3 separate regions of the Homo sapiens genome follow, and regions 1 and 3 are each linked to region 2. The links come from fine-mapping of genetic effects on gene expression. A gene starts in region 2. Each other region holds a variant in brackets. All regions are shown on one strand. Distances are from middle to middle.

Region 1 (4,208 bases), 130 kb after region 2:
AGAGGAAGTTAGGGGGTTGGTTGAAATGGTTATAAACCATGTTGTGGGAACCCAGAAGAGAAAGCAACAAATTCCAGCTGGGGAGATGTAGAGAGGGGAGGCGACCCACCGGAGGCCACACAGTTATCGTGGCAGAGCTGGAGGGAGTTCCACAGACCAGACCCCTGTTTGGGCTGGAAGGCAGCCATCTCTGAGGGAGCGAGGCACTGGTTTCCTGTTTTCCTTCTGAGAATCCGAGGCACCTAAGACAAACAAACAAATAAATCTTGGCCTAAGTTCCATTTCACTCAGTGAAGGAGCCTTGTAAAAGGATGTGTCTGAGCAGGAAAAGTTTATCCCTACCCATTTCACCTTCAACTTGAAGAAGGAGCCCTGAACCGTGATTCAAGACTGGGTTCTAGACCTCTCTGGGCCTCAGTTTCCCCTTCTGTAAAATGACCAGATTTTATAGGCATTTCTGTGCTCTTGCAAACAACCACCAAGATACATTGTTAAGTGGAGGAGGAAAAAGAACAAGGCCAGTATGCATAGAAGATGACAGTTTAAGGAGAAAGGTGGGGGAAGGTGGGAATGCCTGTATACATCAACTTGTATATGCAGAAAATTTCCTGGAGGGCTACATGAGGAACCAGTACCGCAGGGCTTGCCTCTGGGGAAGGAAGCAGGAGTCAGGGATGGAAGGAAAGTTTTCATCTGTTTATTCTTACTTTGCACCTTTTGAAAGTTAAATTATGCAAATGTAATCCCTGTGGGGGGGATATATATACACACACATATATATACATATATATGTATGCACTGTAAAAAATAGAAAAGTATTGAAATCCAGCACTTTGGTATTTTTAAAAAATTATATAACATTGACTGCAGTTTTTGTTTCCTTTTAATACACATACACTGAGATTCCAAGAAGAAAACCCCCCAAAAGGCAGGATCTCTGGTCAGAGACCTAATGCCTGCAGGAGGAGGAAGTGGGGGCAGAAACAGGGAAAAGAGATACACAAGGTTAGAAAATTCAAACCTTATTATGAAAGGTACAAAAAAGGAAAGTGAAAGCCTTTACCTCCCTCCCCAGAGGCAAGGTAATCAGAGGAAATCTCTGATAACAGCTTTTTGTGATTCATCTGGGACATGGGAGAATTAAAAGTCAATAAGTAAAAGGAAAGAAAAAGAAACTGACATTGTGAAAGCTAAGTTTCCATTTGACTTAATCTCATGTCTGGTAGGAGCTGTTTCTGCAGGTGATTTTGTCCTGTTTGTCCAGGCACTGGGTGGGGTTCCATTCTCCTTGGTCAGGTATACAAGCTGGCAGGCCTCCTGGAAGCAGCATCCCTATCTTCTCAAAGTTAGGCAATGACATTCAGAGCTGGCTCCTGGGGAGGGAGAGGCCATCCAGAGCCTACCCAGCCTCACACCCTATCCCCTGGCAAACAACCTCAAGCCCTGACTGTGGTCCTCTCTCTCCAGAACCACAAGCATCTCCCCAGCTGGGCTGAGAAATGTGTCCAGGGGTTCCAGTTCACCGACACCTTTTTCCAGCTTCTTTTTTATTATAAAAATAACACATGCTCTTGGTAAGAAATTCCAAGAGCACAGAAGAACAGGAGCCCCCTTCTCATTCCCTTTCCTCAGGGTGAACTGAGCCACCAGGGTTCTTGGTGTCCTGGTCAGCCCCAGGAGATCATAAGGGTAATGATGCCCATTTTATAGATGAGGAAACTGAGGCACGGAGAGGGGGAGAAACCATTGAGGCCATGTGCTGAAAAGTGGCAAAGGTGGGATTTGAATATGGCTCTTCTGCCCCCAAGTCTAGAACTTTCCACAAGTCTACCAGCAGTACAGCTCTGATCAGCTCAATCCCAAGTTCATAGTGCTTCTTTGCCCCATCCTTATCACTCCTCATCCCCACCACACAAACATATACACGCATACACACACACACATACATATACACACACATACACACACATGCATACACATGCATACTCACATATACACGCACATGCACACAGACATACACACATATACATATACACACACATACACACATACACACATATATACATATATACACATATACACCCACTTACACACACATACACACACACATACACACAAAACCCCACAGTGACTAACCCAGCTGCATGAAAATGCCTCCACAGACATATATACACTCACCCAGCCCAGTGCCCTCATCCCCATAGACTATTTCTGAACCAACATATACACTTGCACACAATCACACATGTGCAATGTACAAAAACACACTTCAGACACTCACACGTGTTCTCATTTCCAGAGACACAAAGACACACTTCTACACACCCATAGACATAGATGCTGGCACACACCCATCCCCACCAGCCTCCCCTCATACCCTCTGTCAGAGCCCACCCCTCAGAGACGCCACATCCATCT[T/C]GTGGCCAAGCCATCACCGCCAAAGTCCTGTCCTCTTCTGCCCGATCAAGTCCTAGTTGTGGTCTTCTAGTTACACTATTGTGCCAGCCAGATGCCACCTGTCCCCCGGCCAAAGCTGGGCCCCTCCCTCAATGCCCTTGCCCTTCTGCCCAAGATTCCAAGGCAGCAGAATTCTTTTTATTTTATGTATTTATTTTTGAGAAAGAGTTTTACTCTGTCGCCTAGGCTGGAGTGCAGTGGCACGATCTCGGCTCACTGCAACCTCCACCTCCGGGGCTCAACTGATCCTCCTGCCTCAGCCTCCCGAGTAACTGGGACTACAGGCATGTGCCACCATGCCCAACTAATCTTTGTATTTTTTGTAGAGACGAGGTTTCACCATGTTGGCCAGGCTGGTCTCAAACTCCTAATCTCAGGTGATCTGCCGGTAAGCTAGCAGAATTTTTTTTTTTTTTTTTTTGAGACGGAGTTTCGCTCTTGTTGCCCAGGCTGGAGTGCAATGGCGTGATCTCGGATCACCACAGCCTCTGCTTCCCAGGTTCAAGCGATTCTCCTGCCTCAGCCTCCTGAGTAGCTGGGATTACAGACATGTGCCACCACGCCCAGCTAATTTTTTGTAATTTTAATAAAGACGGGGTTTCTCCATGTTGGTCAGGCTAATCTTGAACTACTGACCTCAGGTGATCTGCCCACCTCAGCCTCCCAAAGTGCTGGGATTACAGGCGTGAGCCACCGCCCCTCGCCAAGCTAGCAGAATTCTAGGGCTTCCTTTCGTCACCTCTCCCACCCACATGGCACTAATGCCTTGAAGAGATTTGATGAAGAACCTCACAGTTCAACACTCCTGCCTCCTGAGGTGTGCACAAATAGCTTGAAAGGGACCATCTGCTCCTGAGGATCTGCACTCACCCTTGCTCCAGACCCTCTTCATCTTCTCTGAACGTTTCCAAATCCCTTACCTCAGTTTTCCCCCAACAGTTCTCAGAGGATGGGGACCTGAACATTCAGTTGTGGCTCCATTTGACTCACCTGTAAATGTGGTTCCCGAACACTCCAGAGACAACTAGGAACTTCATGAAAACACACAGTACTGCCCCCAGACCCACGTGGGGTCTCTGGGGCTGGCACAGGGTGGCCACTCAATCTGATGGCCAAGAGGTCAATTGAAGAGCTGGGCAGGTGGAGAGAGGAACATCCTTCTCTTCCATAGTCAGACATTAACCAGGAGAGAACTGGATCCCCAAAATGTAATCTTGAGGACTTGAGCACAAGTACTGAGGGCCCTAGTTGGGGTGCTATGAACATACGGGGGAAACACTCTGAATTGGGGATTTATTGGGGGATTTATTCATTTGTTCTTTCAATTAATAAATACTTCCTACAAGGAGGCCAGCCTCAGTGACTGAAATCCCAGCACTTTTGGAGGCCAAGGCAGGAGGATCACTTGAGTCCAGAAATTCGAGACCACCCTGGGCAACATAGTGAGACTCTGTCTCTACAAAAAATACAAAAGTTATCCAGGCTTGGTGGTGCATGCCTAAAGTCCCAGCAAGTCGGGAGGCTGAGGTGGGAGGATCATTTGAGCCTAGAAGGTTGAGGCTGCATTGAGTCATGATCGAGCCACTGCATTCCAACCTGGGTGACAGAGCAAGACCCTGTCTCAAAAACAAAAACAGTTCCTACAGGGAAGCAGGCACCAAGATCTGTGGGGATTGAAGAGTCCCAGCTCACATGAGTGTGGGGTCTGGTGGGGACACACGTAGCCTAAGACTCTCCTCTCTCTCTCTCTC
Region 2 (4,000 bases):
CATAAGCATCACTCAGGGCCACATCCCTTAAGATAACCCTACCCCCCTTTAAAGTGCCTGCCTGAGAAAACTCAAGGCTGTCAAAAAAAATTTTACTGTTTGTTCAGGCTAACACTTAAGAAGGATAGGGCTTGTCTCCCTGTGGGAAAACAGAATCCTAACTTTGTTAACTGCCAGCTAGCAGACCAATCTTATTTATAATTATTCACTATCCTGACTCTACTGAGTCCCCACCTGCCTTCCTCCCTCCTCCCTCATTTTTTCTTTGAAACACCCAGTGACTTCTGCATGCTCTAAACTCAAGGTTGGGCTCCGTTCATGCTAGACTCTTTTCCCTATTGCAATAGTTATTACTGATTAAAAATGGTCCTTATCACTTTAGTGTCCAGCTTTCTCTTTGACTGATTTTTAGTTTTTATTGCAGAATAGTATTCCATAAAAAAAATACTATTCTGTTGCTAGACAACTGGACTGTTTCTGTGTTTGGCTACTATGAATAAAATTGCTATGAATATACTTGTACTAACTTTTTTGTAGACACATACCTTCATTTCTCTTGGTGGATTTGCGGGGTCATAGACATTACTTTTACTACACATCTTTAGTTTGGAATTTTGTATAAATACAACAAAAGGGGGCTAGGCGGTGGCTCATACCTGTAATCCCAACACTTTGGGAGGCTGAGGCAGGCAGATAACTTGAGGTCAGGAGTTTTGGACTAGCCTGGCCAACATGGTGAAACCCCGTCTACTAAAAATAAAAAATTAGCTGGGCATGGTGGCACAACCCCAGCTACTAGGAAGGCTGAGGCAGGAGAATCACTTGAACCCAGGAGGTAGAGGCTGCAGTGAGCCGAGATTGTACCACTGCACTCCAGCCTGGGTGACAGAGTGAGACTCTGTCTCAACAACAAAATTAAGCCAAGTAGGGTGGCACGCACTTGTAGTCCCAGCTCCTTGGGAGGCTGAGGAGCCAGACCCTGTCTCAGAAAAAAAAAAAAAAGAAAAAAAAGAAACAGAATAGTATGTGCCAAAATATCAATATTTTAATACATGTACTGAAAGATACGGCACAAATATCCGCAAAACTTTGAAAAGGAAGGAGCAGATGCAAAGTATGACTGTAGTACCACTGAGGGTCATGAGAAGATTTTAGGTGAAATACAGGTGAACGTTTCATCAGTTATGTATGTATGCTAAAGTGTTAATGCATACGTTCTAATTAAGGAAGGCGATATTAGTTTTCCATTTATGACAATGATATAAAGTTTCCTCTTTAAGAACTCCTATTTAAAAATAAAAATACTGAGTACATAGTGGCAAAGGTGGTAAGAGAGTATCACAGAATTCGTGAAGTGGTGAGGAAACGGCTGGCTTTCGGGAAACAATGGACTAGGCTCTCTGTGGCCGTGTCCACCTGTCCTTCCAGTGGACTTGGCAATGGACTTGAGAATGGGTCTGCGACTGCCAGTTCTGTAACCAACAGGCTCAGGCTGCGTGACTTTCGTACCCCGAGCCCTCTCTGAGGCTCTGCCAACTCCATGAAATGGGGGTGACAGGCCCTGCCCCGCTGCATCTGCCCCTCACAGACAGCGGAGCAGGGCCGAAGCTAGCCAGGCGGCTCGCCCGAGCCCGCGCCGATGCCCTTCACCTCACCTTGCTCGTGGGCCGCCCCAACGGCCTCTTCCCCCCACCGTCGAACCCAGCTGAAGCCGGCCTCGCGCCCCCTCCGCGCTCCCCGCCTCTCCCCGGCTTGGCAGCCCCCTCACCGGGCAGGCATCGCAGCTGCAGGAGCCTCCAGCCCGCCCGGCCAAGCGCACCAGATACCGCCGCCGCCGCCATTTTGGAAGCGGGCACGTCGCCCACGGCGACGCGACCGGTAGCTACGGGACCACGGCCCTAAGGAGGGCGGAAGTCGTCGCTCCGTGGAGCCTCCTCCTCTCGCGAGAGGCGCAAGGCGTGGAGTCGACGGCTGGAGAGAAGCCGGGAGCGAGCCCAGGCGGCAGGTGAGAGTGGTGGGGGCCAGCTGAGCGCCAGAGCTCCCTCAACTGTCCCCTCCCGGCCCACCCTCGTTCCCACATCCTCTCATTTTCTCTTCCCACCCCGTTCCTCGATGGGAACGCAGCCACGGCCGCCCCGCTGAAAGCCCCGGCTGGTTTATTCCTGAGAAGTCGGTGTGAGGGGCCAGGGCCGGCCCTAACCTCCCTGGGGTCCTGACTGGGAATTTCTGCCGTTCCCCGGCTGCCTCGTCCCTTGCGCAGCCGGCCCTACTCTGAGGCCCCGGGGACACCACGCTGAGGAGAAACGGCTCCGAGCTTGGGATCGGGGAGACCTGGTTCTGAGACCCGGTCCTACCAGTAGCCAATCGTTGTGACCTTGGGCCTCAGTCCCCGTGACGTTTTGGTCCCTGGGGGTTCCTGGCAGCAAAGCACGAAAGCCTTGGAGTCGGGGGGTACCTGAGCTCACGATTGTAATTTCGAACCTGCAACTTGTCCGAACCCCCAGCGTGTTGAGTTGATATAATTAAGTATCCAGATCGGAAGGATGCTTGTTACTAGAACAGACAGCTAGGCCTTTGTCCAGAAGGATTGATTGAGTGGGTCTGGGTGTGGTCCAGGAATCTCATTTTAACCACTCCCTCGGGTGATTTGTAGGATCTGCAAGTTCGGGAAAGGCTGGTGCCCTTCATTCTGACATTACTGAGTGCCAAGCTCTGGATGGCTCAAGGAGGTCACGGTCTAGCCACTAACAGAGCACTTCACGGGGGTGTCATCAGAGAAGGCTTAGTAGGAAGAAGTAAACGGTTTTTGGGCTAAGAGTAACTGACGACAAGAGCATGTGATTCTGTCGATTTTGTGTTTGCAGTCAGACCCCATCATTGTGTCTGTTAAAGTTGTGCTTTGCACACCCCTTGTCAAATCTAGTCTTTTCAGAATATCCGGCTCCCCCCTGCACGGGTGCGGGGAAGACCTCCTAAGCCAAAACTTACCCCAAAGGTTAAAATTTTAGATCCATATTTCTGGTTTTAGGTAAAACACTCCTCTCCATAAGGATTTGTTTCTGAGTTCTATCCATCCATCTTTGAATGAGCCTTTCCTGTGGAAACTAACATTTGGGTATCCTTTCTGAAACCCTAATTCCTGACACACGCCAAATGCCTGGAGACGTTCCTGTTTCATTGTTGATTCTCACTTTTTAAAAAAAATTCTGGGCCAGGCTCATGCCTGTAATCCCAGCACTTTGGGAGGCTGCGGCGTGTGGATCACTTGAGCTCAGGAGTTCGAGACCAGCCTGGGCAACATGGCGAAACCGCATCTCTACAAAGAATACAAAAATTAGCTGGGTGTGGTGGTGGGTGCCTGTAATCCCAGCTATTTGGGAGGCTGAGGCGGGAGAATCGCTTGAACCCCGGAGTCGGAGGTTGCAGTGAGCCAAGATTGTGCCATTGCACTCCAGCCTGGGCAACAGAGCAAGACTCTGCCAAAAAAAAAAAAAAAAAAAAAAAAAAAAAAACCTCTAAGGTCTTAGTCTAAGTGTCTAGACAGAGCGTTCTCTTGAGGGCAGGGAACAAGTGTCTTCTTGTCTGTCTCCCGTGTAGGGACAGGCACATAGTAGGTTTCTTAGGTCTCATTTGCAGGTTGTAATTGTGCCTTCCTACCATTCTGCTAAAGCTGGCAGGGAAACTGAGGCCCAGAGAGGGGCAATGGCTGACTTGGATTGCACAGCAGGCTGGTTAGGCCCACTTGGTACTGGTCACCCAGAGGCCAGGCAGTGACATGTATGTGCACAAGAGCTTCAGTTAGTTAATTTTATGTTTTTAATTTAATTTTTTTTTATTTTGAGATGGAGTCTCACTCTGTCTCCCTGGCTGGAGTGCAGTGGCAAGATCTTGGTCCACTACAACGTCCGCCTCCTGAGTTCAAGCAATTCTGCCTACCTCAGTCTACCAAGTAGCTGGGATTACAGGTGCACGCCACCATGCCCAGCTAATCTTTGTATTT
Region 3 (4,239 bases), 25 kb before region 2:
TCGTGGCCCCTCTGCTCACTGCGCCGCTATGGCCGGGATGCCACACGCTTTACCTTCGAGGCTGGCCGGTAGGACCCTCTCGCCTCCCAGCCCTGTCCTACTATGGTGTGATGGTGGCTGCCATTCACTCTGTGTTGGGCACTGTGCTAGGAGCTTGGTTTACTTATTGGCCTAGCAATCCCAAGGGGGAATGTAATGTTCCCATTTTACAGACGAAGAAATGAAATGGAGGCTTAGAGGAGTAACTTGCCCACAGCATGCAGGTCAAGTGAAGCTATTTACCAAAAATCATATACTACTTTGGCTTAAGTCAAATGCAGGTTCAGGCACTTACTACTTCTGTGACTGTGGATCTGAGTCTGGGTTTCGGGGATAATAAAGTACCTAACCTCCTAGAATTATAGTGAAGACTGGGTATCCCCTCACTTGAACTCTGGAGTCAGTCTGCCTAGACTGAAATTCCATATAATCCTCTGCAGAACCTTGGTTGAGTTACTTAGCTTCTGTATGCCTCAGTTTCCTCATCTATAAAATGGTTTGGGAAAATGCATAACAATGAGGAAACCATTAATGGTACAGAGACCAGAGGGAGGTGGTAGAGAAAACTGAATGGGTTAATTCTTATAATGCATTTCAAGCACCAGCTGGTATAGAATATGCTCAGCACATTTGCACCGTGTGGTCGGACCCCCAGACCACAGCCCTACCTGTCCTCCCGGCCTGGAATGCAACCACAACTTGCAGTTGCAAGAGAGCCTAACTAATCACATGCATGTCTGTGGTGGGTCCCCACCATCTTGCCCTCTGTGCTGTGTCCCCAGGATGTGTGATGCTGGGGAAGGACTCTATACCTTCCAGACACAAGAGGGGGAGCAGATTTACCAGCGCGTCCACAGTGCCACCCTGGCCATCGCAGAGCAGCACAAGCGGGTCCTGCTGGAAATGGAGAAGAACGTGAGGGTGAGGCAGCGGGCATCAGTCCAGGGTACGGGGGGAGGGGGGAACGGGCGGGCAGGCAGGGCCAAGTGCCTGGGGTACACAGTGGAGGCAGGTAGGGTCTTGGGGTGGCTGCTCAGGGATACTGTAAGCCACTAATGGGAGTGACCCCTTCCTTTGCCCCACAGCTGCTGAACAAGGGCACGGAACATTACTCGTATCCCTGCACACCCACGACCATGCTGCCGCGCAGTGCCTACTGGCACCACATCACTGGTTCCCAGAACATCGCCGAAGCCTCCAGCTATGCTGGTGAGTCGCTTCCATGCCCCACACCCACCTGCCAGGAGGCTTTGTGGAGGATGAGGCCTATTGGGCAGGGGTCTTTTGACCTAGCTCTGAGTTCTGAGCCTGCTTCTGTGCCCACAGGTGAGGGGTATGGGGCAGCCCAGGCCAGCTCGGAAACAGACCTCCTCAACAGATTCATCCTGCTAAAGCCAAAGCCCAGCCAGGGGGACAGCAGTGAGGCCAAGACCCCATCCCAGTGACCACAGTGCTGGCGAGCACCGATGACTGCTGGGGGCTGCCTGCTGCGGGGCTGGCTGCAGTGTACCGTGGACAGCCTCAGGGGGCTGTCGGCCAAGAGCCTGGAGAAAGGGAGCAAGCTGCCCCCTCCTTGCCCCCAAGGATGAGGCTGGACTGAGGCAAAGGGCTGGCCACACCACCTGAGCATGTGTGAGGGGTTGGAGCTACCGTGGGACTATATACTGTTAATGATTTTAATATATATGGCTTATGACATACTCTGTATCAATGAGATCCCCTCACCCTCACCCCATCCTTCCCCACCAATACACACAAATTTTTTAATCCCATGACCAGGCCACGGTCAAGGCTGTTTTTGAGTATGAGTGCAGTCGT[G/A]TCCATCCTCCATGGCACAGCCCTCCTGCTGCCAGGACCTGCTTGAACTACCAGGGCCACAGGAGGGGGATAATCAGAGCTTGAGGCTGGCACTCTGACTGCTGGCTTTTCCCAGACAGCCCAAGGGCCGGAACAGCAGGTGGCTTCTCAGTTCCTCTGGGCCTGGAGTGACACAGGAAGGATCTGCACTTCCTCTGTGCTGCTTGCCAGCCTTGCAGTTGGAGTTTTAAGCAGAGGTGACATCTGGTTGACGCCTCAGGTGAAAATCTGGTTTTAAAATGTAACTTCTGCACAGGCTCCTTCCTGCTTTGTAGGCTGGGAAGATGCCCCTGGGGTAGGGGTGCTGATTACCTCAGCCATGTGGAGGAAGGCTGGAGCTTGTTCCTGCCCCAGGAATAGGCCAGGAGGGAAGGCCGCAGCAGGACTGCCGTGGGGAGCACCCCTGCTGCCCCCCTCTCACTGACCAGGGGTGGACAATGCCCAAGCAGAGGGAGCCCCCTTGCCCTGTTTGGCCACCCTCTGGCCAGCCAAAAGCACTCTGAAACCAAGACCTTCCCATTTCCTCCTCCCCACATGGTGCTGAGGCTCCCTGCTGCAATGCAATTAAAGCAATTGATTTTCTAGTGCTGGTATTTGTTGACTACCATGCAGAAGGGCTATCTTTCTATTCACGTCAAACTTTTGGTTGTGTGGGGTTTTTTGTTGTTTTTTGGGTTTTGTTTTTTAATACTTTAGGGTCCTGATTTGTGGGAACAGACCTTCTTGTAAATAACCACTATTTGAGTTGTGGCAGGAGGATGATAAAGCACGCGGCCCCTCCCAAAGGAGCCCTTGAGCTAGGGAGGTGGTGCAGTCAGCCTCGCTCTCAACGTGACCCGGGGAATGACCACCCAGAGGGATGAGCTAGCCTGTAGAGGGGAACTGGGGTCCAAAGGTCTTTGGGGAGGGAGGCAGAGCTGGCTGGCTCAGCTAAGTGGCACGATGACGCATGAAGGAGATTATGTTGTGCTCTTTATTGCCAAAAATAAACACTTTTAAAAAGACAACTTCTGTTAATCAATAAATATCCTTTCCTTTCTGTACTGGATCTCTGGTTTTCTCCAGGCTGCCTAATTAACTGCTTTGTGCATGTTCCTATCTGGAGACAGTGCTGAGGGGTTAGGGCCAGAGCCTTCATTAAGGAGAAATGAAATACTCCTCCTGTGTATGTGGGAGGGGCCCTTGCTCCTGCGGCTGCTTCCACCCCCACCCCCACCCCCACCCCCACCAAACTAAATGATCAGGTCATTGGAGGTGAAGGGGTTCATGACTGCTGGACAGAGAATGAAATATCATGTTTATTTGGTGGGGAGGGGACAGCCAGGGTCTAATGCTATTCCAAAAGGTTACTTCTCAAATTAGGGACACCTGGGAATTTGAAGCGCTAGCAGGCCAGCCCTGGGGCAAGAACTGGAAGGGTTTATAGGCCCCCTGAATAAAGGCTATGGCACTTGATCCTCAACACCAGACATCTAAGGTACAACTGAAAATGACTCATTTTGGACAGAAAGGGTTTAGAGTAAAGAGCTGGACTAACCAGGAGAGAAGTCTAGTTGGTTCCCTACAGGTGCACTGGAAACACTCCAGCAGGGACCTTCTGGGATCTGGGGAGCACTGCTGCCAATTATTAACAGCAGTCAGGGCCAGTAAAGACCTATCCTGCCTAAACACCACTGCATCCCTGGTAATCTATCTATGACCCACTTCTAGTTGGTACTGATGTCCTGCCAAGAAGCTCAACCAACAGTAGACTAGATTCTCAGAAACGAGAAGAGTCTGAAGAGAGACCCCCATATCCAGCTGCTGGCCTGAATCTCCGTTTTTGCTGAAGCAGGCAAGCTGCAGTTAATTTATGGTTAGCACATCACTCTGGATCTCGTGGCTTAATTGAGTTTGTAAATCACTCAGTTTCTTCTTCAATCCTGAGAGGGCTGACAGGACAATGGTTTCAGGACGCAGAGAGCCACAGGACTCCACATTGTAGTAAAACCTAGGAGGCAAGAGTCCAGTGAGTGCACTGCGAGGCAGGCTGGCCGACCCGAGCTCTGGCCATGGACAACCCTTCCTCCTTCCGGGTCTTGGCTCTGTTCCCACATGGAACTTGACCTTGGGCCAGGGCTAACTTCCTTTCATGTAAAACCTCTTACATAGGGTAGTTTCAACACACTTTGCACAACCTCAAGGAGGCTACAACTACCTCATAAGGTACCTGTGAAAATCCTAAAGTTCTGTATGTATGCATGCCCCCTGAGGAGAGAGTGGAAAACCAAGTGAGCAGTGACCAGTGATAGACCTTTCACAGTCACCCTGTGGAACTTGGGTCCAAATCTCTGCCCCTAGCGT

The links. PIP is the estimated chance that this variant, and not a neighbour inherited with it, causes the effect.
Region 1: its variant is the best candidate, but not a certain one, in a credible set for the expression of COQ9 in sigmoid colon (GTEx, PIP 0.56).
Region 3: its variant is the best candidate, but not a certain one, in a credible set for the expression of COQ9 in sigmoid colon (GTEx, PIP 0.66).

What each region holds. Positions count from the first base shown.
Region 1 is chr16:57,311,492-57,315,699 of GRCh38, reverse strand. No RefSeq gene overlaps it. Among named protein-coding and RNA genes, the nearest start is that of TRL-CAG2-2, 13 kb to the right of the region's middle. The variant T/C (reference allele first, on the strand shown) is at 2,419.
Region 2 is chr16:57,445,347-57,449,346 of GRCh38, reverse strand. It overlaps COQ9 (coenzyme Q9), which reads right to left and starts at 1,868. Exons shown (of 9, transcript NM_020312.4): 1 at 1,769-1,868. The coding sequence starts at 1,841. CIAPIN1 (cytokine induced apoptosis inhibitor 1) reads left to right here and starts at 1,962. Exons shown (of 9, transcript NM_020313.4): 1 at 1,962-2,005. RefSeq lists an enhancer at 1,756-2,050.
Region 3 is chr16:57,470,622-57,474,860 of GRCh38, reverse strand. It overlaps POLR2C (RNA polymerase II subunit C), which reads right to left. Exons shown (of 9, transcript NM_032940.3): 9 at 2,852-3,886. The coding sequence ends at 3,742. DOK4 (docking protein 4) reads left to right here. Exons shown (of 9, transcript NM_018110.5): 6 at 1-68; 7 at 822-960; 8 at 1,125-1,248; 9 at 1,366-2,939. The coding sequence ends at 1,484. Among named protein-coding and RNA genes, the nearest start is that of POLR2C, 10 kb to the right of the region's middle. RefSeq lists enhancers at 1-163, 829-1,349, 1,350-1,871. The variant G/A (reference allele first, on the strand shown) is at 1,858.